Homo sapiens: one gene and its partners. The protein of the gene in region 1 interacts with the protein of each later gene in a pairwise test. Each region holds a gene or a part of one and is shown on either strand. Other genes may lie near its edges.

Region 1 (7,329 bases):
TTGGCCAGGCTGGTCTCGAACTCCTGGCCTCATGTGATCCGCCCGCCTGGGCTTCCCAAAGTGCTGGAATTACAGGTGTGAGCCACCACACCTGGCCAGATTTACTTGTTATTTGAGAAACAGTAGGAATTGTGCCCAGGAGGAAAGAGATAGTCTTAGTGAAGGTGGGCAAAGACAGGATGATCTTTTAGATCAATAATGTGTGTAAGCTCAAAGGCTTGCAAAACTATTGTAAATGAAAACAACCCCTCACATATGGGTCGTCAGTCAGTTCCCACGGGAAATTCAGTGTTATGTTGAGTGGTCCTGAGATTTCCAGGTAACCTCACTGCACTCTTTAACTACAGTATAGGTGAAATATCAGTAGTACCAAGGTAAATTCTAAGACCAGGCAGTGCAGGGAAGGATGTAAAAGAATGATTCCTTTTTCTGGGTTCAGAGTCTGTTGGAGGCAATGTCAGGAAAAGGCACTCTTCTACTGTTTTGGTACTGTTTTCCCCTGGCTACTCACAATGGCAGTCTGGCTGTCTCCCCTCAAGTATTAGCATGTAATATGAGATGCTTCCTCTCTTAGAGATAAAGCTACCTAAATAGAAATTTTACTGAATATGGACGACAGATAAATCCCTAGCCATTCCATTTTTAACAGATATGTGTATTCAGAGGAACTTCTATAATTAATATAATTCTGGCAGAGTGTGAAAGAACTGAAAAACTTTGTGCTCAGTGTTGGTGGAGTGATCACCACAACATTTTAAAGAGAAACAAGTGAGACTGTATGAGTTCCAACTGCTGCTCCATATTTTCCAATGGTAATACAGTCTCTAACTTCTGACCTAAAAACACCCACCCTAAAATCTTGAGGACTCATATGCAAGACCTCTTTATTCTTTCATTCATTCTCAAATACTTAACTGAACACTATGCCAGGTATAGAAACACAGTGGTAAACAAGACAGATAAAGTCCCTGCTTATCTAATTTATATTCTATTACGGGGACAGAGGGGAAAAGTAAAATAAACAAGATAATTTTGGTCTGTGATAAGTACTTCCTAATAACTGAAGAAATATGATGGGAAGCAGACAACCAACTTTAGACAGAGGTAATCAGAGTAGGCTTATGAGTAGCTGGAACATGAAAGATAAGGAGCCTGTGCAAGATCTGAGAGAAGAGTGTTCTTAGCAGAGGGGCTAAGTGAAAAGACCCTCAGGTAGGCTGGCACTTCGGGGAGATGGGCTTAAGGAACAACAACAACAAAAAAGTTTGAGGGGCTGGAGCAGCTAGTGTTGGCACTATGGTATGAGTTAAGACTAAAGAGTAGAAGGGCTCAGGACATTCAGGGTCTTATAGGCCATGGAAGGAAGTTTGAATGATTGGACAGTTTTAAGGAAAGAAGGAAAATGACCTGATTTAAAATTTTTACATTTCTATTCCAGTTACTATTATAAAGCTTATGGGGGCTAGAGTGAGAACAGAAACAGTAGGAGGCCAGGTGGTTTGGACTAAGGCTGTGGCTGCAGAGATAGGAATGAACAGACTTAGGACATATTTGAATTATAGCCCATATAATTTACCAGTGATTTCAATGTGGGGATGAGGGACAGAGATGAATCAAAGATGGCTTCTGGGTTATGGGTTGAGTAGTTGGTTGGATAGTATTGTGAATACTGAGATAAGAGTTTGTGGGGAGGAATAGATTAGGTCAGTGAGTCGTGGTGGTCTTTGAGGGACTGAGGAGGACAGGCATTCTGAAAGATTTTAAAGAGAAGAGAAGAGGGCAGTTTTAGCTAACTTTGGTTTAAAGTTCCCAGTTAAGGTTGTGATATGGGACATTAAAGAGGTCGTTTGTGCACTAAGAAGAATATGCAGGGAGCCGGGCGCGGTGGCTCACACCTGTAATCCCAGCACTGTGGGAGGCTGAGGCAGGCAGATCACTTGAGATCAGGAGTTCGAGACCAGCCTGACCAACATGGTGAAACCCCGTCTCTACTAAAAATACAAAAATTAGTTGGGTGTGGTGGTGCGTGCCTGTAATCCCAGCTACGTGGAAGCTGAGGCAGGAGAATTGCTTGAACCCGGGAGGCAGAGGTTGCAGTGAGCTAAGATCGTGCCACTGCACTCCAGCCTGGGTGATAAAGCAAGACTCTCTCAAAAAAACAAAAAAAAATTAACAAACAAAAAAGAATAAGGGAATTCTGTGATCTGGAACTCAGAAGAATTTCATTTCCTTCCTTCACAGGGTTGTTATGAACTAGACTGGTCCAACAGGAAAGTATGATAGATGTGAACTGGGGCTTCTTTTCAACCTTTTCCGGAAGCTCTCAAGCTGTTCTTGTGGATAAGACAGAGAATATGTACTCCAATGCAAAGACTTTTGGTTGAATTATAACTGGCTGAAGGTATATCCAGATGGTGTGGGTTAATGTTTACTAGGTTTTCCTGAAAACTTTGCCTTTGGCTGCATCCCATTCTGTGTCTTGAACGAAGGTATAGAAGGCATCATCTCATAAATTTGGTGGAAGAGATATTAAGTATGTCTGATCTGATGGCAGATTAAAAATTCAGAAAGGTCTTGACAAATTGGTTTGATAGGCTGAACTAGCAAGATGAAATTTAATAGGAATCAATCTAAGGTCCTGCGCTTGAATCCAAGGTTTTCCATCCAGTCAAGTATAGAGCAGAAGAGACAGGACTTAGGATAGCATTTCTTGGAGGAGGGGGAGACCAAGAAATTTAATCATTCCTAAGTTCGAGGATACACTGGCAGTGTACTAGATCTGCTATGAAAGCTAATGCAATTTATATGCTCCAGTGATAATATCTAGAACTGGGAAAGTAACACTTGCGTTTGACTGTGTAATAGAAATTAAGTTTATTTTTCTTAATATGCCATCCAGGAATAAAGATAAACCAGCAGTCCCTTCACAGACTCATTAGAATGGCAAAGGCTCAAGCCCATCCCCTGGGAGTTAAGTTGAAGTAACTGGGAATACAGAACCAGGAAAAGAGAAAACTCAGTGTTCACTTTATATCTGTGCCATTGAAAGGGGATTGGAGATTTCCCGATGGTGCCCAGGGCAAAGCCAGGGCCAATGGATGGAATTTACAAGGAGAAAAATGCCAAGTCAGAGACATTTTAAAAATTGGAGGGCCTGCCTTATGTAAAGTTACTGACAGTATTTATGCGTTGATGGGATGTGTAGAAAGAATTCCTCTATCTCATAGTCATTGAACCAGATGACCTTTCAAGATCTTGGCAACCCTGAGATACATGGATAACTCTTTTTCAGCTTTCTCTTGTTGTCACAACCGTTTGCCTTTTTCTACTTGGTGGTTCTCAAGACAGCTGAAGAGGAGATAGCTGATGCACTGTTTTGGTTCCACAGGTGTCTGGTTTCTTAAGTCAGGACCTGCATATGCTGCTGGTTGATGAGATTTGTAAAGGACCTCCCTTTTCAGCACAATGACTGATGGTATTTCTTGCATTGTTGTTGTCTCCCAGGTGACTGTAGGACGAGGATTTGGTGTCACATACCAACTGGTATCAAAAATCTGCCCCCTGATGATTTCTCGAAACCACTGTGTTTTGAAGCAGAATCCTGAGGGCCAATGGACAATTATGGACAACAAGGTACAGGAATTCACAGAAGCCTAATGACTTTTATTTGTTTTTAAATTACTTTTTTTTTTTTTTGCATAGGTAATTCATGGTATAAAATTCAAAAGTATAACTTCTTCTTTCCTAGCCATCCAGTTCCCTTTTCCAGAGGCAGCCACTTCCATATGCTGCCAGAGATTCGATTATGCTAAAATAATTTCTCTTGATTTGGGTTAAAGTTTGTTAACTTGAAGAGAATACCTGAATTGGGGTAGTAGGTCCTATTCCAGAAACTAGACTAAGTTACTGGGCAAATAAGCCTGTTTGAGGTGAAGCTCCCAGAGACCCTGGGAATCTGCAGAATCTGCTGACGCTTCTGGAGTACACTTATGGCTCAGTGGACAAGGGGAGGAGGGAGAAACTGATCTGATTGCGCTTAGCTCCTTTCCTTCCTCACTCCTTTCAATCTGAGCAACCTCCCCTGGCCTTTAAAACATGTTTTAAATATTGGTGTTCCGAAGATTTCCTTTGAATAATGGGTTTTTCTCCTTTAAACAAATTTGAAAACCACTAGTTTAGTGGTAAATATATTGAGGGAGGTGCAATAGTATATGAAGCCCAGCAATTAGAAAGTACCTAATGTGCTGGGTGTGGTGGCACATGCCTGTAGTCCCAACTACTGGAGAAGCTGAGGCCAGAGGATTGTTTGAGCCCATGAATTCTGGGTTATAGTGTGCTATGCCATTCTGGTGTCTGCCTTAAGTTCGGCATCAATATGGTGTCCTCCTGGGAGCAGGGGACCACCAGTTTGTCTAAGGAGAGGTGAACTGACCCAGGTTGGAAGGAGGGCAGGTCAAAACTGCTGTGCTCATCAACAAAGGGATTGCACCTGTGAATAGCCACTGCACTCCAGTGTGGCTGACATAGTGAAGCCCTGTCGCTATCAAAAAGAAAAGAAGATACCTAAAGTGCAGATATACAAGCACCGAGGAATGTGATGAAAATACAGACTATGAGGTGAGAGAAATTCTAACATAAACAGTTAATGTTTAGGAAGTATAACATGTCTTTAAGTGCCATTTCATATTGCTTCACTGCCCCAGTTAGGATTTTAAAGGTACCATTAGAAGGGAGGGTATCCCACAGGTCTGCCTGCCATCCTCATATTGCGTGCATAAAACTGCTAGATTTAAGCTGTTGGAAAGTATCTTCCTGCTCTAGAATTAAGTTGAGTTGGCACTGTATTGAAGGAGACAGTACATAAATGCTAAGTAAATCAGTTCAGCACTTTTAGCAAGGCACCATGAGCAGGATAAAAATTGGCACTGAGATTATCTACTTTAACCCCTTATGTAGACAGATGAATCTGAGGCCCAGAGAGATAAACTGTCTTGCCCAAAGCCTTCTCTATAATGAGCCAGGACTTAAGTTTCTCTGCTATGCCCTGTGTCAAGTATCAGTAAAGTATGTAAGCAATTTGCTATACTGGCTTTATGACGTCAAACAATTAATTATGCATATTTAAAATATAGCTGCAAGGTTTTAAAGCCTCTGTAATAGCGTATATCAAAACAGCTTAGGAAAAGATGTTTTCCTCATCAGAGTAGGCTGTATGAGAGTTAGGATTACAATATTATAGAGGTGAGTTCTCTGCTGCTGCTTTTCTTAATTATGTGCAGTGTAGATGTGATCCACTTATGGGATTAGCAGATTTTCATAGGTTGGGAAGCCAACAGCTGATCAACTTCAGTGTTATTTGAATTTCAACCACAGGGATACAGAGGCAGCCTGTGCAAGATCAGATCATGACTGTGCTCCGGGCTCACTCTCCAGTGTTTGCTTTGTACCCTTCCTTCTAGGGTTGCTGTTATCATATGATTCTTCTCAGGTCTCAGTCAGGCAATAGAGAGGAAAGATAGGTTTCTTAACAACCTGTTTAAACTTTTTAGCTGTGATTGTTTGTGAGATAACTGATTTAATTTTAAGAGAAGCTAGGACTGGGGTGTTTTGATGGAACAATTCTTACAAGTAAATCCCCCCTGCCCCCTGCACTTTTCTTTTGACTACAGATGCCCCCTTTCTGGCTTCCTCCTGGCATGATGCCATGGCAGCCCTCTTCTGCTGATAAGAGACCTGAATTTCAGCTGTAGGGTATTATTGCTGTGGTTGTGTTTGAAGTCATTTGCCAAATCTTTTTCAAGAGATAGGTGTTTCTAACAAGTTAAAAACTCAGAGCTGCATTCTCTTATCTGCTGGAATGGCCAGAAAGTGAGAGCTTAAGTATAGATACAAAAATTGCAAGAAATGTTATTTTGGTTTAAAATTGGCTTAAAATATAGAAAAAAACCTTGGAGGACAGCTAAGTCTGCACACAGTATGAGGATGGTTCTAGTTGTGTAGGTTTTGGTCAATTCATAAGCTTTTCAGATGGCCCGTCCTTTGTATTGGTATCCAGCTCTTTCAGAAAATTGGTTGTTTTAAAGTCACAGTATGAAATGCCTTAGAGGTTCAGTCACGTCTTACTTGAGCCTTTCCCATTCTTACCCTCCTCTCCTGTTGCTTTTCACCTGCTGCCTGGTGATTCCTACCTTTGTTCTTCTGCAGACTCTGGCATTTGAAGTCCCTGTTGAGTGTACTCTTACGTGAACAAAGTTTGCTGTTTGGGACAGTTCAGCTTCTGGTCCTCCAGCAACTAGAGCAGTGGTTATCAACCCTGTTTCCAGTTTTTACTCTCACCTGGGGCACTTTTTAAAAATACTGATGGTAGTACAATAAAAGCGTTCATTCGTCAAAAAACACCATTAAGAGAGTAAAAGGCAAACTCAGAGGAAGATGTTTGCTACACATTATAGTCAATGAAGGGTTTATACTGAGGTATCTGCAGAACTCCAATAAGAAAAAGACAGATATGCCCTATTTAAAAATGAGCAAGAGACAAGCACTTCACAAAAGGTTCTATCCAATGAAAAGTTGTTCAACCTCATTAATAATCTGGGGAATTTAAATTAAAACCATAATGGAATACCTCTACACATTCACCAGAGTGGCTAAAATTGAAGACTAGTGATGCCAGGTATTGGTAAGGATATGGAGTGATAGAATGTTCTTACCCTTCTGTTGGGAGTGTAAATTGGTACAATTTGGGAAATTATTTGGCATTATTCATTAAAGTTGAACATACATATAGCTCTTGACACAGTATTTTCACTCCCCGGGAAACAGCCCAAATGTCCATCAACAGTAGAATGGATAAATTGTGGAATAATCTTATATTGAAACACTATACTATAGTGAATATGAATGAACTACTATATCTAATAACATGGATAAACCTCACATAATATTGAGTGAAAGAAGGCTGGGCGCTGTGGCTCACGCCTGTAATCCCAGCACTTTGGGAGGCCGAGGCGGGCGGATCACGAGGTCAGGAGATCGAGACCATCCTGGCTAACATGGTGAAACCCCGTCTCTACTAAAAATATAAAAAATTAGCCAGGCGTGGTGGCGGGTGCCTGTGGTCCCAGCTGCTCTGGAAGCTGAGGCAGGAGAATGGCATGAACCTGGGAGGCGGAGCTTGCAGTGAGCCGAGATCAGGCCATTGCACTCCAGCCTGGGGGACAGAGCGAGACTCTGTCTCAAAAAAAAAAAAAAAAAAAAATTGAGTGAAAGAAGACAGACACAAAAGAATACATATTATATGATGCCATTTATACAATGTTTAAAACCAGG
Region 2 (8,068 bases), on another chromosome or scaffold:
TCACTTTGCTCCTCATTTGCCTTCTGCCATGATTGTGAGGCCTCCCCAGCCATGTGGCGTCCATTAAACCTCTTTCCTTATAAATTACCTGGTCTTGGGTGATGTCTTTATTAGCAGCGTGAGAATAGGCTAATACAATGGGGTATAAGCTCATCAGAATAAGGAAGTCAAGGCCCGGCGTGGTGGCTCATGCCTGTAATCACAGCACTTTGGGAGGCTGAGGCAGGTAGATCACTCGAGATTAGGAGTTCAAGACCAGCCTGGCCAACATGGTGAAACCTCCTCTCTACTAAATATGCAAAAAATTTGCTGGGCGTGGTGGTACACTCTTGTAATCCCAGCTACTTGGGAGGCTGAGGCATGAGAATCGCTTGAACCTGGGAGTTGGAGGTTGCAGTGAACCGAGATTGTGCCACTGCACTCCAGCCTCAGTGACACAGTGAGACTCCATCTCAGGAAAAAAAAATAATATTAATAAGGAAGTCAAGGAAAGAGAGATCAGGTTACCAGAAGGAATGACTCTGTATGTTTATGTATACACTGAAATCATCAAGTGTTCTGTGATGACAGAGAGTGAGAAAAAAAGGTCTCATCTGTAAGGAGTAAGAAGTTACCCAGAAGTGTACAGATAATTGCAATAAGGGTATGTAGTAGGTGACAGAATTTGAGGATATGAGCTTTAAAGAAGTTGAAAATATTTAAAAATAGGAAAGACATATGTTCTAAAAAAGGCAATAAGATAAAAACCATGGCACCTCCAGGTCCAATGGGGTCTAGGGTATGTTAGAAGAAACAGCCTCTAATTTAGAGGGCTCTTGGAAGAGCAATGTCCCCAGGTGACCCCTGAGTTCCAGTAGGAAAAGAAGGGAAAGGGAATAGTTACAAAGGAGATATGGGGAATTTTGTGAGTAACTGATAGTGAATTCCATAGGGTGAGGGGACTTGAGCAACTGAGGAAAGTTGAGAGCATGAATAGGGTTGGGGAACTTACATATGTTATGAGAGTCCAGACAAAAATGCTTCAAGGCCTGGAGTAAAGAGGCCTAAACTGTACGGTTGGATTATTGTCCTAATAGTCTCTACTATGGGCTGAATTATCTGTCCCTAAGATTCACATGTTGAAGCCCTAGCCTCCAGTAATTCAGAGGGACTGCACTGCAGACAGGGTCTTTAAGGAAGACATTTGGGTTAGCCCTAATCCAATCTGCAAACTAAAAAGAGGGATTTCAGAAGAAACCAAATGTTCTGACACCTTGCTCTTGGACTTCTAGCCTCCAGAACTGTGAAAAACATATATAATAATTTCTGTTATTTAAGCCATTCAGTCTGTGGTATTTTGTTATGGCAACCTTAGAATATTCATACAGTCTTCTTGGTGAAAGTGAATAACAGTTCTAATTGCATCCTCATTTTTGGAACTGTTCTCTTAGGTATATTATGCTGATGAGCTAGGAAGCACTGGGGGCCAAGGAGACAGATAATTCTTTCCAGAAGTATAGTTCTGTGGGTCCCCTTTCCTGTTTTGCCAAGGTCCAGTGTAATTTATTCATTTGCCTATATTGTTTTTTTAACTTACTTTTAATTTGTGATTCTTACTGATAATAAAATTGGATAACTATATTTATTTATTTATGCAACAAATATTTATTGAGTGCCTATTATGTGCCAAGCACTTTTCTAGATACGCGGATATTAGGGAATCAAACAGATAAACCCCTGCCCTCACAGAGCTTACCTTCTAGTAAGGTAAGCTCTAACTGGGGGATGCTTTTGTGGAATTTGGTAGTTTTCAAACTGGAGTTTTCATTTCTTATGACCAAAGTCTCCCTACTCCAATCCAAGCATTTTATTGTTACCAAATTCACTTTATAAAAGTAGAAAATGTATCATGTAATATCCACCTAGAAAAAAAAATCAATTGATGCCTCCATATTGCCTTATAAATAAAATCCTTATTTCTCTCTATGGCATTCAAGTTGTGATTTGATGCTGAATTACTTGTTTGGCATCTGCCCCAAATTAGGGATCTGTATCCATCCTGAGAAGCCTTATGCTTTCTCTTTTATTGCAAAATGGACATTTCAGGACACCAAAAGATGTAAACTTGTTACAGAAATTCACCATATGTTCATTCCCTATAAATACTCAAAAGATACTAGCTCTTCCCCGTGTTACTGTCAGTCCTTTGCTAGAAGTTGCCTACTCTGTAATGCTGAGCTCTAATTGTTTGCTCAGCTTGGGGACCTATACAGAACAGGTGTGGAGTAGGAGAAGGAAAGCCCAACTATGGGGTGGATTTCCAGGTCATCTGCTCTAGTACCTGAAAAGGGCTCCTGGTTTTCATTACTTTTTCTGCTGAAAGCAGCCGATTCTCTAAACAATAGTTGTGGCTATTATATATGTTTCCATTTCTTCTCTAGGCCAGAAATGTGGATATTTTTATGCATATCTTACTGTAAGCACATCATATTTTAAGCATATCTTACTTTTGGCATATCTTACTGTAACAGTCACAGTCTAGGTAGGAAACAGGAGGTGCACTGTAAGTGATTTTACTGAAAAGAATGTAATGAAGAGACAATTTCAGAGGTATTAACTGGGTTAAGAGAACTAGGGGAGGCCGGGCGTGGTGGCTCGTGCCTGTAATCCCAGCACTTTGGGAGGCCGAGGTGGGCGGATCACTTGAGGCCAGGAGTTCCAGACCAGCCTGGCCAACATGCCAAAACCCTGCCTCTACTAAAAATACAAAAGATTAGCCAGGCGTTGTGGTGCACACCTGTAATCCCAGCTACTCGGGAGGCTGAGGCACGAGAATCACTGGAACCTGGGAGGCAGAAGTTGCAGTGAGCCAAAAGGAACTAGGGGAAGCCATCACACTCTAGGCCTGAAGGGACACTGGAAACAAATTGTTTTATTAGAGACCCATGAGAGCTGAGGCCATGGAAAAGAGGCCTCTACACAGGCCCTGTAGTCATAGAGGGACAGGACTGTGGCCAAAATTTTGGGTTAAAGGAAAGAAGAATACTCTGATATTTCTCTCCTCCCTTCTTTTGATTTTCTGCCAGTGCTTCCCATTGGTCAATCACAACAGGAAGCCACAGGTCAAAGGGGCCTAGTGATTTATCTGTAGGCATCCAAAGGCACGGCTTGGTAGAGAAGTAGAAACGATAGATTTGGGGAGGGAAACAGAAAATACTGCTGTTATAAATATTCTCTAGACCACAGGAAGTTAAAAAAAATTACTAGATTACAGGACAATTAAAAAATTCCCATAAATCTACCTTTCTAATACCACTTCCTTCTTATTCCCACATTTAACCTGCTGAGTGTTATCTCTGCCTAGCACTGGGGTGGGTAAACTTTTCCTGTAAAGCATATTTTAGACTTTGAGGCTTAAGAGGCAAGGTCGAAAATATTATGTCCTATTTATGTAGTGATTTGAAATGTAATTATTTGAACATATAAAAAACAGTCATTCAAATTCAGTGGCGTAGATTTGGCCTGTGGGCTATACTTTGCTACCCTCTGGCCTTGAAAGTCTTCTAAATTTTTGCTAGCCTAAAATCCACCTACTTTTCAATGTCAAGTTCAAATAAAACCTCCCCTACGTGGCCTCTCATACTGGGACTCTGAGCTGTGAGTGACAGAAAATCAACTATTACTAGCTTAAGCAAAACTGAGGATAAGTTGAGAGTTTGCGGGTTGTAGATCCCAGAATCCAGGAGTTGCTGAAATGCCAGCTGCTCTGGGGATATCCTGCTTTGCTACTGTGGTAACATCAGAACATGCCCTCTTCATCTCCCTTTCTCTTCTCTTTGCTTCTGTCTTCAGTTTGGCCTCATCATCTCCTAGAGGCAGATCTTTTCCACAAGAAACAGAATATGTAACTCTTTATGTACCCAGGAAAGTATTCTGTTTGACCTGTCTTGGTCACCCAGCCACCCTTCGATGAACCCATGTCGGTGGAGGAAGGGGGAAGAGTGATGGGGTAGTCTCGAGGTTCAGACATGGCACACGTTTGGGAGAGAAGCTCACCTCTGAGGAGTGGGGAAAGAGGCAGTTTCCCAAAAGGAGGATGCATTCTGTTGCCAGGAGATGAAACAGGAGAGGTTGTCTATTTTAGAGAGATAGAAATGTCACAATTACAATCCAATGTGTGCAGCGCTATAACAGAGATAAGTCTGACGCCTCGTTATCACCCACAGTACCTAACATCACACTTGGTAGACACATTCATGCGATTTTGATGAATGAATGACTCAGTTCTCCCAGCTGATTGTGTACACACTCTACTCCAAACTGGCCCAGAATTTTATCAGCTGCTCTTCATTCTGTACGTTGTATTTGGGGTTTTTATGGCCATCTACCATCTCTCCTCTAATTCCGGGTGCAAAAAGAGTGTATGAGAGAGAGGCAAGCATGCAGTAAACATCCTGTGTTAATCTCAATCCCAGAACCAGACCACAGAATGCTGACTACACCGCTCACGGGAAAGACTATGTTTTAGGTGACCCGTGTGGCCTTTTTGTTGAGGCCTTTAGGATACAAGGCCCCCACCTAAAGACGCGACCCTCCCGTAGGAGGGGGGCAGGGCCCGGGGGCGGGAGCACAGCGGGGCCCCAGCCTCAGGCGGCGCGTCACTGAGCACAAAGGAGACAACAGCGAGGCGGCAGCGGGCGCTGATCTTCGCTCGCCAGCCACTCGCAATTGCGGTTACAGACCTGCAGCTCCCCCTCCCCCAGCCGGCCCGCCCGCCTTTCTGTCTCCTCTCTCCCTCCGTACTGGACGGCCCCGGTCCATTTCCGGGCTCCGGATATTTGGTATCGATTGGGGCCGGGGACGCGGAGCAGGTGGCCGCGGCGGGGCAGCTGGGCCGCCAGCTTGGTGCCTCGGGGACCGTCTCCCGCTGCTTTGGTCACCAGCCCCTGCCCGCCCGACCCGCTCCGTTCTCCGGCCTGCGAGCCCTGCCGGCCGGACTTTGCGCCGCGTCCGGCGCTGCTGCTGCGCTCGGGGCCCCGCTCGGCGCCGGCGGTGACCGGGAAGCCCGCGTTAAAGGGGCAACCGGGACCCTGGCCCGGTATGGCTGAAGTCAGCATCGACCAGTCCAAGCTGCCTGGAGTCAAGGAAGGTAAGGGCCCCGGAGGGAGAGCGCGCGGGACCCTCCCCTCTCCCAGCCCGAGGTTCTCTCAGGTCAGGGGCGTTGCCATTTCGGCTCCCGCGGCCCTCGCCCGGTGCCCGCCCTGCGTTGGCCTTGCCCGGACGTGAAAGGAATTGAATTCAGGTTCTAGTGTGGGACGTTGGGCAAGTCTCCGACGTTCCAAGCCCGTTTTTTCTCAAGGGGGTGGTTGGGGGGGGGGGGGGCTAGCAGCAGCCCCAGCAAGTAGGTGGCTGTGCCCGTGTTCTCGTGCATCGCAAAGCCTCAGTGGACGCTGAGAGCCGGGTGAATCTGACTTACTCCGCTTCTAAAAAATCGAGGCCCAGCCTGGCTGGCTTGAAGGCTGGGAAGTGGAGAGGGGTTGACATTCAGTTCCGTGTGGAGCCTTTGTTTTGAAACATGACTCTTTCCCTCCTTCTCTCCCTACTTTTCCTAGGCCGGCGTCTGGCTGGCTGACTTTCCCACCTTCCTCAAGGTTTAAAAGTTTAGTCTTGGCTGTGTTCTGCGCGGGCGGGAAGCCACTATAAGCATTTTCTTACAAACAAAACACACACACACACACACACACACACACACACAATAGTGAGCGAGGGGAACAGGGGACTGATGGCCTTGTCATTGCTTTTTGTACCAATGTCCAGGAAAGTAGAGATTAGTACTGACCTGGCTTTAGCTGACAGCAAGTAGCCTTTTGACTTCCCTTCTCTTGTTTTTCCACTAGCTGCCTCAGGACCTAGCTTTTTTTTGCTGAGATCTTAGGTGCTGGATCGCCTTATGCCTTGAGTTATCTTTGTTTATTCTTTGGTCCTAGGAAGCATAGACGTTCCAGAGTGCTGACGCAGACCCCTAAGTTCCAAGGGCTTTGCAAAATCGGCTTCTGTTGTGAATGTCATTTGTATCGATTGAATACTGTAGCCTGAGGCGTCTTGGAGATGTGGAATTGAAAATAGTTTTTGCTTTCTTGGAACCGCTTGTTTTATTGCCAACTTAATTTGACTCCGTTGGTCTTGTGTGTGCTCAGGCCAGCCCAAAAATCTCAGGAAAATGAGGGACTGCTTGATTGCTTTCTCAGAGTTTCAAGCACTAGGAGACTAGTGACTAGTGGTCACTGATTTTATGTAGAATTTCTGATGGGCCTAGTTCTGTCTTACTGTTCCGGAAGGGTGTTAAAGCTTAGGCGTGAGATTTTAGCGTTAATACTTTTCTACCTTTCCGTCCCTGGTATGGCTTTGATGAAGACTTAGGGCTTTCACCTGTAGAAAACAGTTTTCACTCTGCTGTCAAGACTAAGGAGGCTGAGCGATAGGAAAGGCGGATCCATACTTTTGAGAGTTCTTATCTTAGAGATTGTCTGGTTATCCTTTACTTTTGGATATGAGGGTTTTTTGTGTGGGTATGTGTTGGGTTTGTCTCTAGAGAAAGAGTGATCCTTGTGCAGTGTGTAGTGCATGGTGAGTAGAATGAGAATTGGAGTTCAAACAAAACCTGGTATGTATAGTATTAATCATATGGTGCTATGATTTTATCCAATCCCCTATTCATGTGAGTGAAAAAACATAAAACTCTTCATATACATTTATATTACCCTTAGGTCTTCTGATTTCGTACCAAGACATGAATGATGTATTCTAACATATTATTTCTCAAGGAGTTCCACAAACACCTTCCATATAAAAATGCAAGATTTTTCCATTTCCACACTCTAGAGTCTAATACATTTAAATTAGCTTTCATTTTGCGTAATACGGTGTTTGGCAATCTCTTTTATGTAATCTGGTAAATTGGTAAGAAAATTCAGTGTGGCTCTTTCATTAAGTTACAATTAAATATTAATTTTGAAGGTGGTCAGGAATCGATGAGATCACTGTCTTTGTAAACATCTGACTTTTCTAGTTCCAAGATCATCAAAGGAAGTGATGTATTATACTAGGAATGTCCTACTAATGGTGGTGAAGTTTTTGATCTGAGAAGTATTCAAGTCTAATAAAGTGTATCCTTCCCTAATATAACTCTTAATTATGGCCCAGTTACTCCCTAACAGTGTCTTTATCCTAATTAAAGAGAATGAAGCTTGTGCCCCTGATAGGGTAAAACATGTGCAAACATTGAGACTGTGGTAATATTGAAACTCCAACTTCATTTGAGAAGGGTTAGTAGTAGTAATTAGTTTAATATTCTGATGCAGATTTTTGAACCCCATTCAAAAAAATCCCTGTATCTGTCTCCTCTACTTTTTAATTTAAACTTTTGATAGATATATATGCAGTTACAATTTATATTCAATTTGGTATCATGGGGTAGATTCCAATAGAGATTAAGAAGAATAGTGCAGTGAGTGTGTGCCCGTTTCCATTGCTGTTTAGGAGGGGATGGGGCACCCTGTGACCTTTTGTCGTGAACATTTCAATAGAGGTCGTGGGTAGCAGCTGACATTAGGGTAAGGGGATATTTAAAAATCTTCTTTCCTAGGTTGAAATCTAATGCTTGCTTACTTAGTTTTTAAGGAAGTCAAAAATATTCATCATTTGGACAGACCTTTTGAAAAAACACACACACATACACCTATGGTAGTATTTATACCTTGGTAAATCTCTTAAACTGGGAGACAAAGGGAAATGATTGAGTTCATATGTAGGTGAAAAGAATCAAGTCAACTAAGTGTCAACACATCATTTTTTCTGGTTAAAAGTGTGTTTGGAACATCTGTATACTTTTTGTAATGGAAAACGCTGTTGCCAATATTCAGGAATAATACTCTATTTCTTCTGAAACATTTGAGGTTCTAGATTTGAAATAATTTCCAGCCATTTTAAACTTCAGTAGGTCTATAACTGAAATGCAAAATGCAATTTGCGAATGTTAGGGAAAGGAACAGGCATGTTTCAACAATATTCTGAAAGTTTCTTGGAGTTC
Region 3 (7,708 bases), on another chromosome or scaffold:
AGTTCAAGATCAGCCTGGCCAACATGGTAAAATCCTGTCTCTAATAAAAATACAAAAATTAGCTTGGTGTGGTGGTGCACACCTGTAGTCCTAGCTACTTAGGAGGCTGAGGCGGAGAATTGTTTGAACCTGGGAGGCGGAGGTTGCAGTGAGCCGAGATCGCACCACTGCACTCCAGCCTGGGTGACAGAGTGAGACTCTGTCTCAAAAAAAAAAGAAAAGAAAGAAAAACTAGAGTTGAATCTCTTTGAGAGCAAGAACTATATCTTAAGCACTATAGTTTCGTTTGCACATGCACACACATGCACATACAGAGTCAGTATTTAAGCAACTGAAATGTATGCTGAACAGTAGCCAGTTCCCGTCCCTTAGCAAAGTCATTTCCCTGGGATTGTTCATCTCCCATGGCAACAATACACAGTAGGATGTGTTGGAAAATGGTTCTCATTTTCCACAAGGAGGAAATAAAAAGCCAGCCCAACAAATATAAGGCATCACCTGCACTGCCAGGTCCCAGCAAGGAGTCCAGGCCTGGGCCATTCCTGGAAGCACTTACACAAAGACAAAATAGAAAACTGGTGACAATGAAGGCTGTTCAGACCCTCAGCAGGGTAGCTCAGGACTCTGCCTCCATGGCACAGGGGATGAACCCTGACAGCACTCATTGGAGAATAAATGGACATTATTTTGAGCATGTAATTGGATTGGAGGTTGTTTTCCAATAATATGCAAAGCAACTTATATACTCCACTCCCAGTATTTGTTACATAGTATTAAAAATATCCTTGTGGGTTCTGCGACTTCGACAAAAATCCCCTGTATCCCTTGGATTATCCCTGAATAACTTATGCTATATGCAAGTGTAAGTAACTAGAACTCTTAAGATAAATAAGTAGTTTGTGACCATCCTGGCTAACATAGTGAGACCCCGTCTCTAAAAGTAAATAAATAAATAAAAAGAGAATAAATAATGTGCAGTCACTGACTTTTAGGCTGGTCATCTGGTTTTGGCAAAAGGACATAGATTTGCAATCTAAGGACCAGTGTTCAAGCATGGGCTCGTACCTAACTAGCTGTGTGATCTTCACAAAACCTTTACCTTTCCTAGTCTGTTTCTTTATCATCACTTATGAAGAAATCCCTCACAGAAACCACCCTGAGGATTAAATGCTATAATGTAGGTGCTTTGCAAACTGTAAAGCACTGCCCTGGGCTGGGTGTGTGGTTCACACCAGGAATCCCAGCACTTTGGGAGGCTGAGGCAGGAGGATCGCTTGAGCTCAGGAGTTTGAGACCAGCCTGGGCAATATAGGGAAACCCTGTCTCTACAAAAAAAAAATTTTTTTTAATTAGCTGGGCATGTTGGTGTCCACTTGTAGTCCTTGCTACTCAGGAGGCTGAGGCTGGAGGATCACTTGAGTGTGGGAGTTCAAGGTTACAGTGAGCTATGATCATACCACTGCACTAGTGAGACCCTGTCTCGGAAAAAAAAAAAAAAAAATTGTAGGCTGGGTGTGGTAGCTCATGCCTGTAATCCCAGCACTTTAGGAGGCCAAGGCGGGCAGATCACCTGAGGCCAGGAGTTCAAGACCAGCCTGGCCAACAAGATGAAACCCCGTCTCTACTAAAAATAGAAAACATAGCTGGGTATAGTGATGGATGTCTGTAATCCCAGCTACTCGGGAGGCTGAGGCAGGAGAATTGCTTGAACCCAGGAGGTGGAGGTTGCAGTGAACTGAGATGGTGCCACTGCACTCCAGCCTGGGCAACAGAGACTCCGTCTATAAAAAAAAAAAAATTGTAAAACACTGGCCAAACATCAGTCACCTACTGTATTGGAAGCTTGGAAGCTCTAGGGCCTGAGGCCTGACATAGTGCTGGTGCTCAATATTTGTAGTATAAATAAGGAAATACTTGTAGTATAAATGACTAAATTACACCAATGAGCTATATGATCTCAAGCAAGAATAATTCATATCTGTCTCTCTTTGGCCTCCTCTGATATTACTTTCCTCCTTGTTCACTGGGCTCCAGCCATGCTGTCGTTTTTCCTGTTCCTCCAACACATCATGCTCTCTCCTGCCTCAGGGCCTTTGTACCTGCTGTTCTCTCTGCTAGAACACTCTTGCCCAGCTCTTTGCATGGCTACGCCTTCTCATTAATCAGGTCTTAGCTCAAATGTCATTTTCCCAGAGGCTTCTCCTGATGCCACCCTGATTAATGTTCCTAACACATCATTCACCTGAGATGCAATCCTGTTTTATCTTCTCCTTAGCACTTATTATTGTTAACTTTTTTTGTTTTTGAGATGGAGTCTCGCTCTGTTGCCCAGGATGGAGTGCAGTGGCACGATCTCGGCTCACTGCAAGCTCCGCCTGCTGGGTTCACACCATTCTCCTGCCTCAGCCTCCCGAGTAGCTGGGACTACAGGCGCCCGCCACCACGCCCGGCTAATTTTTTTGTATTTTTAGTAGAAACGGAGTTTCACCATGTTAGCCAGGATGGTCTTGATCTTCTGACCTCGTGATCCACCTGCCTCGGCCTCCCAAAGTGCTGGATTACAGGCATGAGCCACTGCGCCAGGCCTACTGTTAACTTTCTTATTGTACTCTCCTCCACTACAATAAAAAATACTTTACTACAGCTTCCCTGTCTTGTTCACCACTATATTTCCATGCTCAAAATATCATCTAGCTCATAGTAAATTCTCCATAAGTATTTGAAAAAATGAGGTTGAAATAAGCTAGTAATATTAAAAGCTTCATTCATTAAACAAATGTTTTGTATATACCTAGGAGGGTCCAGGTTCTATTTCAAAGTGCTGGAGATTCAGGTGCAATGACAAGAGACAAAAGGCTACGCAAGGTGGCATGTGCCTGTAATCTCAGCATTTTGGGAGCCCGAGGCAGGCAGATTATGAGATCAGGAGTTTGAGATCAGCCTAGCTAACATAGTGAAACCCCGTCTCTACCAAAAATATAAAAATTAGCTGGGTGCCGTGGCATGTGCCTGTAATCCCAGCTACTCAGGAGGCTGAGGCTGGAGAATTGCTTGAACCCGGGAGACGGAAGCTGCAGTGAGCCGAGATCGCGTCACTGCACTCCAACCTGGCGACAGAGCAAAACTCTGCCTCAAAAACAATTTAAAAAAAGAAAGAAAAGAAAAGAGACAAAAATCCCTGCCTTCCTGGGGCTTGCCTTCTAGTCGGGAGACAGACAATAAGCAAGATAAAAGGTAAAATATAAAAGAAATAAAGCAGGAAAGAAGGACATGAAGTGTGTGTGGAAAAGTAACATTTTAGATGGGATAGCCAGACAAGGTATTTTAGATAGAGTAGCCAGAGAAGGAAGTGGGAGACTGAGCCATGAAGATATATGAGAGAAATTCACCCCAGGAGGCCTGGATAACTGGGACAGGAATTAAGGAGTTGGGGACTGAGTAACACATCAGGATCAGGGAGGTTAAGGGAAGTCAGATTGTACAGGGCCTTGTTGGTCGAAGTAAGGACTTTGGCTTTTTTTTTTTTTAGTCGGAGTTTCGCTCTTGTTGCCCAGGCTGGGGTGCAATGGCGCCAGCTCGGCTCACAGCAACCTCTGCCTCCCGGGTTCAAGCCATTCTCCTGGCTCAGCCTCCGAGTAGATGGGATTACAGGCATGTGCCACCACACCCGTCTAATTTTGTATTTTTAGTAGAGACGGGGTTTCTCCATGTTGGTCAGGCTGGTCTCGAACTCCGGACCTCAGGTGATCCGCCCCCCCTTAGCCTCCCAAAGTGCTGGGATTACAGGCGTGAGCCACCGCGCCTGGCCGGACTTTGGCTTTTACTAAGAGTGAGATGGGAAGCTGTTGGAGGATTTGAGAACCTAAGCGTCATGATCTGACTTGTCATAAGAGGATTCCTGGAACTGCTGTGCTGGGAATGCCAGTGAGGTTGCTACTACAATAACCTAGGCAAGAGATGGTGGCTCCCAAAGACACGGGAAGGAGCAGCTCTGGGGTTGGAAGATAAAATTTGGGGTCTGACAGCTACATTGGAGAAGCCTATTAGCCATTCGAGTGAACTGTGGAAGAGGCAACTGGATGTATACAGGTCCGGAGTCTCGGGGAAGATCAGAGCTGGGAGCTGGCACTTGGAACTCAACAAATAGTATGTATTATTAGCAGTAATATGGAACCTTAGCTGTACTACTACTTACTAGTAGCGAGCTCTTGAGTTAACCATTTTTAGGTTCTGGGCCTCAGTTTCCCTGTGAATGAAATGGCGAAAACACTCCCACATAACGGGACCTTGAGAACGAAATGAAAAGTATCAAGGGCTGACCGTGAGCAAGGTGAGAGCCATGAGCCAAAACCACACGAGCCTCTCCGGGAGGGGGGGGTCACTGCTGCGGAATCAGCGACAGGTTTCCGAATCCACGGCACACGCTCTGAGGTACCAGAGGTAGCAAAGCAAAATAAGCGCGGGGTCCCGCACGGCAGCGCGGGTGCAGCGCCCAAACCTCGCGAGATTTGTTGGCTGGGCCAAGTACCACCCACCAAATCTCGCGATACCTAGGCGCCTGAGAGGCTCTCTACCGGTGAGGGTTTGCGGGGAAGATGGAGTATCCCGCGCCGGCCACGGTGCAGGCCGCGGACGGCGGAGCGGCCGGGCCTTACAGCAGCTCGGAGTTGCTGGAGGGCCAGGAGCCGGACGGGGTGCGCTTTGACCGCGAGAGGGCGCGCCGCCTGTGGGAAGCCGTGTCCGGTGCCCAGCCGGTGGGTAGAGAGGAAGGTGAGTCGGGGGCTTTGGAGGCAGAAAGCCCCTCGCCCGCTGCGCGGCTCGCGGGGAACTGCGGAAGCGCCGACGGTCACACCCCCTGGCCCGCCTCCTTGCGTGCTGCGCCCCGGGACCCCCAGACTTGTGCTCCCCATCCGGGCGCGGGCACCCCAAGAATCGGGCCCCCAGCGCGCTGAGGGTGAAGGGCCGCTCACGCTCAGGCCCTGGGTTTTCCTCCTCCTCCTTCATCATTCACTACAGCGCAGTTTTTCCCACATTCGAGGACTGTCATCCCTATACTCGTCCTGTCGGAGACCTACAGTCTTTGCCATCCCGGTAAGCCAAGCCGAGTGCCCCTCACCACTCCTTGACTCCCCATCGTCCCAATCTCCAGATTTCCTCCTAGGGCCTCTCGCCTCCCTTCTCTCAAGCCCCACACTTCCGAGGGCTCTGGAAGGCCTTCTCCTTACCCCCTGGGTTCCTCCTGGTCTTGATGACTGAGCCCTGGCTTACCCGTTTTTAGCTCTCTGGCCTCTACTTGCTGGGTCCCTTATTCTAAGGTGGGGACAAGGAGCCTGAGAAACTGGTCTGGGTTTGCTTTGGCTCCAGCTTCTTTGTGTCCTACACTTGACCCAAAGTTGCTGAGAACAGTGTATGCAAAGCCACGTTAGGGGTCACTCCTGGGCCGAAGCGCCCCAGCTTGCTCTGCACTTGACCTGAGACTGGGTAAGATGGGATGAAAGAAAGAGAAGGATGGAAAAGAGCTGTCCTGACCTGCTTGTGTGACTCCCTTCACTGTCCTTTACAGAGCCAGCTGCTTGATGCTAACCCAGATGTACAAGAACTCTATCTGGGCTTCTCTGCTAACCTTGTCAGGTATCTGGAGGGAAATCAGATTTCTCCAGTGATTTGTTTGCTTGCTGAGCAGACTTGTCTTCGAAAGTTTAATATGCTATTTGTGAACTGACTGCCCTGGATAAAATTGGATAAAATTGAAATTTTGACCATATCTAAGGAAGGTACACAGACCTATACCCTGGTATATACTTCTCCAATTTAAAAACAAGTCTAGCCTGTCTCCTAAGTTTATATATATATATAATGTATATTATATATAAAAAAGAAGGAGACAGGGCCCCAGAAATGGTGTGTGTGTATGCGTATATATAATATACACACACATAAATGTATATATATAATATATACACACATAAATCTGTATATATATTTTTATATACACTTGTAAGTATTTTATGTATACACACACACACACACACACACTATTTCTGGGGCCCTCTCTCCTTTTTTTTTTTTTTTTTTTTGAGAGAGTCTCACTCTGTCACCCAGGTTGGAGTGCAGTGGCACAATCACACTGCAACCTCCGCCTCCTGGGTTCAAGCAATTCTATACTGCCTCAGCCTCCGGAGTAGCTGGGATTACAGGCTGCTGCCATGACGCTCAGCTGATTTTTGTATTTTTAGTAGAGATGGGGTTTCACCATGTTGGCCAGGCTGTTCTCGAACTCCTGACCTCAAGTGATCTGCCCGCCTTGACCTCCCAAAGTGCTGGGATTACAGGCATGAGCCACCGCACCCGGCTCTCCTACTTTCACACTTGTTTGGTAGTTTCCTCCCCTACCCCAATTTTCCTTTCATTAACTTGACAAACACTCACTGATGCCTGCTCTGGACCCGGAACTGGTTGAGCTTCAGAGCTGGAGTATCAGAGGAAGATACTGCCCTTGCCCTGGAAAGGCTTGCAGTCTAGTCCAGGAAGCAGACACCAAAACAGTTCCAGTGTAATGTAAAGGATGCAGTGCTGAGGAATGTTTTAAGAGTTGGAGGTGCACAAGAAGAAAGTGACCTTTGCCCTGGATCTTGAAGCAGAAAACCACTGTGCTCTGAAAAGTGAACTGTCTGCTATGTGTATATGAGTGTATAGTGGCACTGTTATGACCCATTTCATTTCCCTGTTCTCACTTCTCCCACATTTATGTGAAATCTAGGTAGACACCTACAACATTAAGTTCTACTCACCCTTTTTCTACTCTTAGCACCTTCATGTGAGTTACAATTTATATACCATACAAGTCACCCATTGTAAGCATATCGCCAGTGATTGTTAGCCAGTGTACAGAGTTGTATAGCCATTACCACAGTCCACTTTTAGAACATTTCCGTCACCCCAATTAGTTCCTTTGAGCTCATTTATATTAAATCCCCACTCCCACCTCCTGCCCTAGGCAACCAGTGACCTGTTTTCTGTCTTGGGTAGTCTTTTGAGTTTGGCTTCTCTCAGCATGTTTTTGAAGTTCAGCCAAGTCATGGTGTGTATTAGTACTTCATTCCTTTTTATTGCTAAATAGAATTCCATTGAATGAATATAACACATTCTATTAATCCATTCATTAGTTCTAGACATTTGGATTGTTTCCAGTTTGGAGTTTTTGTGAATAGTGCTGCTGCGAACATTCATGCCCAAGTTTTTGTGTGAACATACATTTCATTTCTTGAGTATATCCCTAAGAGTGGAATTGCTGGGTCATATCGTAACTCTGACATTTTGGAGAACTGCCAAACTGTTTTCCAAAATGGCTTCACCTTTTATATTTCTGCCATCAGTGTATGAGGGTTTCGCTTTTTCTATAACCTTGACAACACTTGTCTTTTTTGATTATAGGCATTCTAGTGGGCATGTAGTGATATCTCATTGTGGTTTCCTAAAGACTGATAATACTGAGCAACTTTTCAGGGGCTGACTACCCATTTGTAGATCTTTGGTGAAATATCTATTCACATCATTTGCCTATTTTGTAATTGGGCTGTTTGTCTTCTACTGAGTTGTAAGAGTTATCTGTGTATTCTGGGTACAAGTCTTTTATTATAGATATGATTTCCAGGTATTTCCCCCTGACTGTGACTTGTTTTTTCATTTTCTAAACAGTGCCTTTTGA
Region 4 (7,329 bases), on another chromosome or scaffold:
CTTCATTTTGGTACATCTAGTTTCCTAATTGCTATCTTTTTAGAAATGAATGTATTTTGACAGCACCATACTAAAAAAGACTTTATGCGAATTCTCCTTAGAACTAACAAATTGCTTGTTTGATTTTTGCATTCTTCAGCCTGGTATTTGGTACCTTTAGATAGTGTATGCAAGACGCATTTTTCTGAAGTTTTCAGTGCTGGCAGCAGGATGCCTGTGGCACTATCATCCTGAGATTGTGCACTTGCAAACACAAGTGTGTTTTGAGCAGGCCAAAAAGTGTCCCACATTCTTCAGTCTCCTCTTTGAAACCCAGTGTCCCAGGATACACATTTTTTGTTTTTAAGTTATCATAATTTTTATTGACTCTTGCAGAAATTTTTCTGTTCCTTTGTGTCCTACTCAGTACTGTATGTGAAGTTCAAGGTTGAGTTTGGTCTGTAATGTTAAAAACATAACATTGAACATTGTTATCTGAGCAAGTCTTTATGGACTTTTGATCCTAACAGTATACTGATCTTACATTTCTGAATTTAGTATCTAATTATAAAAGATTTGTGCATATAATTGTTCTTTGAAATTCCTCTTACCAAAAAAGGGCACCCCTCAGGCATAGTTCAGTAAACCTAAAACAGCATATCTTCAAATCTTAATGTAGTCTATTTTTTATTACAGAGCCCAAATTCCGTTGAACTAAGGTACCATAATTACTTAATCAGCTCCTATTTTAGGTTATTTCAGTTCTTCCTCTTTAAAAAAATATATATTTATATGAAATATTTTATTTTTATATTTATATTAAAATATGAAGTATTATATTCTAAATGATTTTCTTAATTTCTAGTTTAGAAGTGAAATTACTTTATCAGAAAACATAATTATGGCTTTCAGAGGATTTGTAAGTGCTTTATCAGTGTAAGTGTGTATCACTTTCATAGAAACTTAAGGTTGAATAGTTACATTCTAGGTTATAAAGTAAACTTAATTTAGAATAAAATTAGTTTACACCTTTTCATGATATAGTCTTGAGGAAGGGGGCAACATGGTGTACTGGAAAATCCTAATGCCCTGAAGTGTCCATTGCATGTAACGAGTTAGCTTCCCTCCTATACATCTGAAAGGGTTCTATTTAGGGACTATCCTTGGTAAAATTGAGACAATAGTCACTCAAATCTTTTTCATATCCTCAGTATAGCATTAAAACTGCGTGGCCACTTGTGCAAATCACTTACAATCTTAAACTCACTTTAGAAAGGAGATACTATAATCTGCCTTCCAGGGTGGTAATACTGCTTTCAAGTTTGTCTCAATCCTTATCTAGATAAGTGCTTAACTGCTTTATACAAGTCAGCCATTACTAATGCTACTACTTCATTGCTTAAGTGTTCACTTTATTGGGAAACAGTGTAATAGGGGGAGTAAGAATGCTAGATTTGAAGTCACAAATTGCCTGGATTTGGAATTTCAGCTCTGCCATTTAGCTGTGTGGTATTGGGCAAATTAACCCCTTTAGTGTCGGGTTTCTCAAGTAAAAAATGAAGTTATCATAGTAATAACAAATGAGGCTATATTTAAAAGTGATTAACACATTTCCTAACACATTTTAAGCATCAATAAATGTTTTCAGTAATTATTGTTATGTGATTATTGTATTAGTTATTTATTACTACATAAGAAATTACTTCAGAAACTAGTGGCTTAAAATAACAATACATGTTTATTATTTCCTTGTTTCTGTGAATCAGGAATTTAGGAGCAGCTTAGCTGGGTGGTTGCGGTCAAGCTGTCAGCAGGGGCTATGATCATCTACATATTATTTTGAACCTAATGGTTATAAATTTTATATTTTGCAGACTATGTCTTCAGCAGTGGTGCAGTTATATGCAGCAGATCGGAACTGTATGTGGTCAAAGAAGTGCAGTGGTGTTGCTTGTCTTGTTAAGGACAATCCACAGAGATCTTATTTTTTAAGAATATTTGACATTAAGGTGAGTTTTGTTTTGCTTTCACTTTAAACTAGGTGATTAGGTTTTCTATATCAATTATAATTTAGTTTAGATTTGTTTATCCTATATGTGATATTTAAATTTATACATAAACTAATATTAGAAGAGTGAAGCTTGGTTTTTAGATATTGCATACGGAAATCATGACCAAATGGGAACATGTCTGAAGCCAGAATGTGAATAGTTTCCTATTTTATCTTTCTCCTGCTACCACGCATTAAGGCTTTTTTTTTTTTTAAATTATGCCTGTTGGTTCTTGGGCTTTCTTTACACTCTGTATTTTTTTAATGAAACTCTTTTATTCCACCTGGTTCATTATAGAATAGCGTAGATAGTCTGTTCAGGTAACAACAAAATAATATTTTAGCTCAGTATGTACTGTTATTTAGCCCAGGTTTAAAACATTTCAATATCTATAAAAATCTGTTTGCTACTCATTTTTCCTTATATTGTTTCTCATGATAGATATATTCAGATTTTCATAGCTTTATATCCCTCCCTTCCAATCATAAATCACATTGTTATAGATTGAATACCTTGTTAGGTATTCATTTCTTACAGTTGTCATAAAAATATTTTGCTAAGATGAAGTCTCCATTATTTTTTTAAAAAACCTTTCTGTAAGTAAGCCTCCATGATTAATATTTATATGTGGCAATAAGTGCAATGAGATTTTAATTACAAAAAACTAAAACTGCCTTTAAACTCTTGGGCGCTAATATGACCTGATAGATAACAGTGAAGAGATTTTTACACCTCTGGTCTCAGCTTTATTTGTAAAATCAGATAACCATCTTGGTTTGTTATGAGGTATTTCACTGAGATTAAATGAGATCTCAGTTATGGTATTTGGTAAATTAGTGCTTCTTTTGTTGTTGTTGTTGTTGTTTTGAGACAGGGTCTTGCTCTTGCTCTGTCACCCAGCCTGGAGTGCACAGCTTACTGCAACCTTGATCTCCTTGGCCCAAGCAATCTTCCCACCTCAGCCTTCTGAGTAGCTGTGACTACAGGTGCATGCCACCACACCTGGCTAATTTTTGTATTTTCTTATAGAGATGGGTTCTGCTGTTTTGCCCAGCCTGGATTCAAACTCCTGGACTCAAGTGATCCTCCTGCCTCAGGCTCCCAAAGTGCTGGGATTACAGGCCTGAGCCACCAGTCCCGGGCTAAATTAGTGCATCTTAATGTCTGCTTCCAAGACAGCTGAGAGATATGACATGCTTCTGTCACTAGCAGTGGCTTACTAGTAATCACTAGCAGTGGCTAACTATGGCAGTGATTCTGGGGGGTGGGGAACACATACGTAGTTTGAAAGAAACCCCCAAGTGCTTTGACATATTTCTCATAACCATTGAGAAGCACTATTTAGAAATGGCATACACTTACTACTCCACTAAGAAGAAAGGGATTCCATTGCAGTGGTTATAATGTGTGAACAGTGTATTTTACATATTTTTAAATTGTGGTCTAGGTAGAACCTTGCATTTCTGAATAGGGCAATGACTATCTTTCTCTAACCACTTATTTCCAATTGCTGGACACTCATAATTCGTCACCTTTGGTATTAAGATTAAACATATTTTTTATACTATGGCAATAGATATGGCAGCCATCATGGCACTCTTATCCATAGTTTAACCTTGATACATTTTAATTATCAGTCTCTTTCTGCATCATGATTAATACTACTTATACTAGTATATAATTAGAAAGGTACTCTGCAAAAGTTAAGAATTTGAAGATGGTTAATTAGCAGTACAAGGAAGGTATATTTGACCCTCCCACATCTATAAAATTGAGGAAAAGAACATAAAGTATTCCTGCAGTGTTTGATAGTACATTGTCTAAATATTGCTGGTGGAACTGTGCTTTGGTAATCAGTTCATGTACAAAAGTATCCTATTCCTTCTATGTAACATTGATGACCTAGTAATTATTCTGGTTATTATGTATTTGACCAAGTAGCTGAATTTGGAAATGGTTGGCTAGTGAGATTATATCTTAGCTGAATTAAACTGACTTGATATGTAGGTTTTATGAAAGATACGTTATCCAGTGTTTTCAGTTTTAAGAAATTACTGATTAGATTATGTGACACTATTTATATATTATAAATATGTTACATGTGTGCATTAAAAGTTATTTTTAATATAAACAGTTTTCTTAATATGAGTCATCTTCTTTGTTTTATTCCTAGAGATTATGTTTTGGTAGTTCTTATTTTAATTTTTAACTTTTTTCTAGGATGGGAAACTATTGTGGGAACAAGAGCTATACAATAACTTTGTATATAATAGTCCTAGAGGATATTTTCATACCTTTGCTGGAGATGTAAGTCATATTTTTCTTTATTGCCATCTTTACTTTTTTCATTGCTTGCCTTTTCTAATCCAAATTATTTATAGAACCTTATTGAAAGATCAAATTCAATTTGCTATTTTATTTTTTTGCTGAAGATGAAATATTCAAATTAGTATATGTGTCTGCTGTGATAGGTAACTTCTCTAATAGTAATCTTTTACTTGAACTTCTTCATGCTTTTGTGTTAAGTTATTCAGATCATAAAATAATGTCTTATCTGCTAGTAAAATTAACCTTTCGTTCTTTAGAAATATACTTCTTTTCCTCATTGTTTTTATGATATAAAGCTAAATTCATACATTCTGTTGTTTCCCCTTTGTGATGAAAATATTTCAGACTTGTCAAGTTGCTCTTAATTTTGCCAATGAAGAAGAAGCAAAAAAATTTCGAAAAGCAGTTACAGACCTTTTGGGCCGTCGACAAAGGAAATCTGGTAACCCTTTTTTAATTACTTAAATCAGGCCAGCAAACTAATGCTCATGGGGCAAGTGTGGTCCATTTCCTGTTTTTTGTAAATAAAAGTTTACTGAAACTTAACTGTATTCATTGGTTTACATGTTGTCTTTGGCTATTTTTTGTCACAACACAGTTAAATAGTGATGACAGTGATATATGGTCCTCAAAGCCAAAATTATTATCTGAAATATTTACTATTTACAAAAAAATTTGGTGGTCCTTACCTTAAAATAAATAATATTTTTGTTGAGAACTATTTTTTTTAGATTTACCGAAGGGCCCAATACAATAACCTTTTTTGTTGATAAAATTTCATATATATTGACTTTTAATTTTGCATTTGTGATAGCATTTTTTGTAAAGTTTTAAAAGTATTTTATACTTTGTAAACAAAGACTTTAGGTAAGCTTAGAAGCAAATAAGCAGAGTTGCTAACAAGATCTGTAAACATTGCCTTGTCTTTCTATTTTGTTCCTAATGCTATATACTATAAAACCCATAAGGAACTTAGTTTAGTGTGTGAAACAACTCTAACACATATAAAACAATTATAGAACAATGCAGGATAGTATAAAGCTTTAAGTTAATTGGAGTAGAACTATTACTTGACAACAGTGAACCAGGTGTTTCTCTTGTAAAGTGGAGAAGGGTGACTAGGAAAGGGGAACCTCTCCAAAATCATCTTAAGCAGATGAGTTTCAGAAGAAAGAACATGTGCTTTCATCCAGTCCTATAGTTCCAAAAACTGTATGCCAATGACTCTCAAAGTTTTTTCTTCAGTACTGACACATCTTCCCTGACCTTCAGACTCTGTCTACTCAAGTGGCAGAATAGCCTTTAGACTTAACACGGTCTGAGCAGAATATTTGATCCATGTCCTGTATCCTGAACCTTAGCCCCACTCAGATCTGTTCCTATTCTTCTACTAATCTTCCTTGTTTCAGTAAAAGGCATTTGTTCCATCTTATCCCTCAGGCTCACCATGGTCCCTCATAAATCCTATCAGAGTCCTATTGACTCTGCCTTCAAAAACATGTCCTGTCTGACTATTTCTTACCATTTCTGCTGCTACCATCCTAATCCAGGCCACCATGATCTGTCAGCTGGGCTGCCACACTAGCTCTCTGACTGGTCTTCCTGCTGCTACTCAATCCTTTTTACTATCTCTTTTCTATACAGTAGCCAGAGTAAACTTTTAGAATTGTAGATTAGGTTATATCACTTTCTCTATTTAAAATTCTGTAAGAGCTTCCTATCATATACACATAAAATCTATAGTCCTTAACCATGGCCTGTGGAACCCTACATGATCTAGTCCCTGACTTTCCTTCTTGTCTCCTTTCACTGTGCCATTTGCTCACTGTAGTCCAGTCTTCATGATGTTCTTTCATGTTGCACCCTCCTTGGGGCCTTTGAATGTATTGTTCCCTTACTTATTTTATTTAGATCTCTACTTAAATGTCGGGTCTTCTGAAAAATCTTCCTTAGTCACACGTATGTCAATTTAGGAATAAGACAGTTTAGTGAATTAATTTTTTTATGTTGATGTTGTCTTACATATATTTAATAATATTCTTCTAATTTATTTTCTAACAGAGAAAAGACGAGATCCCCCAAATGGTAAGCTTTTTGACAATTATTAATCTTTTAAGATTTTAGATGACAGTTTAATCCTTGTGGAAACATGTACCATACATTAGTAATATTTAGTATCTTTTACATGTTAATCCTTGTGGAAACATGTACCATACATTAGTAAGTAATGTTTAGTATCTATGATCAAATTATACAGTTTATTGTGTTCCTATTTTTAATTAATGATTGACAGATGAGACTTAGGAAACAATATTCTTTGATATTTTTCTAACATGAAGAAAGAATACATAGGGTGAAGATCACTAATACTTATTATATTTTAATTCTGGATTCACAGTTGACTAAGTATACAATCGGACCTTAACATTTTTCCTAGAGGCAGTACATTTTGTCTAGAATATTTGTTAATGTCCTACTTTAAGATTTACCTTTCATTCTTATTTCAAAATATTATTTCACATTGCTTATGTGTTATATGAAGCCCCTTTCAAAATGAACACCTACTGTTGTGGTGTATTTAGAACTAATTTAGCTCTGTATAATGCTCTTTAATTTGATAATGACCACTTGAAGTATTATGAATTCATTTTTTAAAAAACATTGAATACCAGAGAGTAAAAGCAGAATACCAGGATGTAAAAGATAAGGTCTCAGGGGTAGAAATTCTTACTCTAGACTTCATAAACTCCCTGAAATTGTGTGCTAAATATGTTCTTTTCTCTGGAGAGAGAGGATCCATGGCTTTCATCGTATTTAAATGAGGTTCCTGACTCTATGAAGGTAAAGAATCATTCTCCAGCACACTTTGTTATGATAGAGAAAATGGCTGCTTTTTAAAAGCATATCTCAAATCCTCTTATCAGAACCTAGAATGATTATTCAAGGAAAACTTACATAATACAGAGTTCTT

Evidence for each region.
Region 2: the proteins of RNF8 (region 1) and CCDC50 interact in binary tests that used the Homo sapiens proteins (3 or more experiments, as listed by UniProt).
Region 3: the proteins of RNF8 (region 1) and ZNF346 interact in binary tests that used the Homo sapiens proteins (3 or more experiments, as listed by UniProt).
Region 4: the proteins of RNF8 (region 1) and WASL interact in binary tests that used the Homo sapiens proteins (3 or more experiments, as listed by UniProt).

Annotation. Positions count from the first base shown.
Region 1 is NC_000006.12:37,356,942-37,364,270, forward strand, and holds part of RNF8 (E3 ubiquitin-protein ligase RNF8), read left to right. Parts: intron 1-3,504; coding exon 3,505-3,633; intron 3,634-7,329. UniProt on the Homo sapiens protein: E3 ubiquitin-protein ligase that plays a key role in DNA damage signaling via 2 distinct roles: by mediating the 'Lys-63'-linked ubiquitination of histones H2A and H2AX and promoting the recruitment of DNA repair proteins at double-strand breaks (DSBs) sites, and by catalyzing 'Lys-48'-linked ubiquitination to remove target proteins from DNA damage sites.
Region 2 is NC_000003.12:191,324,596-191,332,663, forward strand, and holds the start of CCDC50 (coiled-coil domain-containing protein 50 long isoform), read left to right. Parts: upstream 1-4,798; 5' UTR 4,799-5,079; coding exon 5,080-5,128; intron 5,129-5,818; exon of another isoform or gene 5,819-8,068.
Region 3 is NC_000005.10:177,018,144-177,025,851, forward strand, and holds the start of ZNF346 (zinc finger protein 346), read left to right. Parts: upstream 1-4,552; 5' UTR 4,553-4,595; coding exon 4,596-4,770; intron 4,771-5,016; coding exon of another isoform or gene 5,017-5,091; intron 5,092-5,563; exon of another isoform or gene 5,564-5,576; coding exon of another isoform or gene 5,577-5,631; intron 5,632-7,708.
Region 4 is NC_000007.14:123,703,748-123,711,076, reverse strand, and holds part of WASL (actin nucleation-promoting factor WASL), read left to right. Parts: intron 1-1,853; coding exon 1,854-1,988; intron 1,989-4,250; coding exon 4,251-4,337; intron 4,338-4,703; coding exon 4,704-4,800; intron 4,801-6,419; coding exon 6,420-6,443; intron 6,444-7,329. UniProt on the Homo sapiens protein: Regulates actin polymerization by stimulating the actin-nucleating activity of the Arp2/3 complex. Involved in various processes, such as mitosis and cytokinesis, via its role in the regulation of actin polymerization.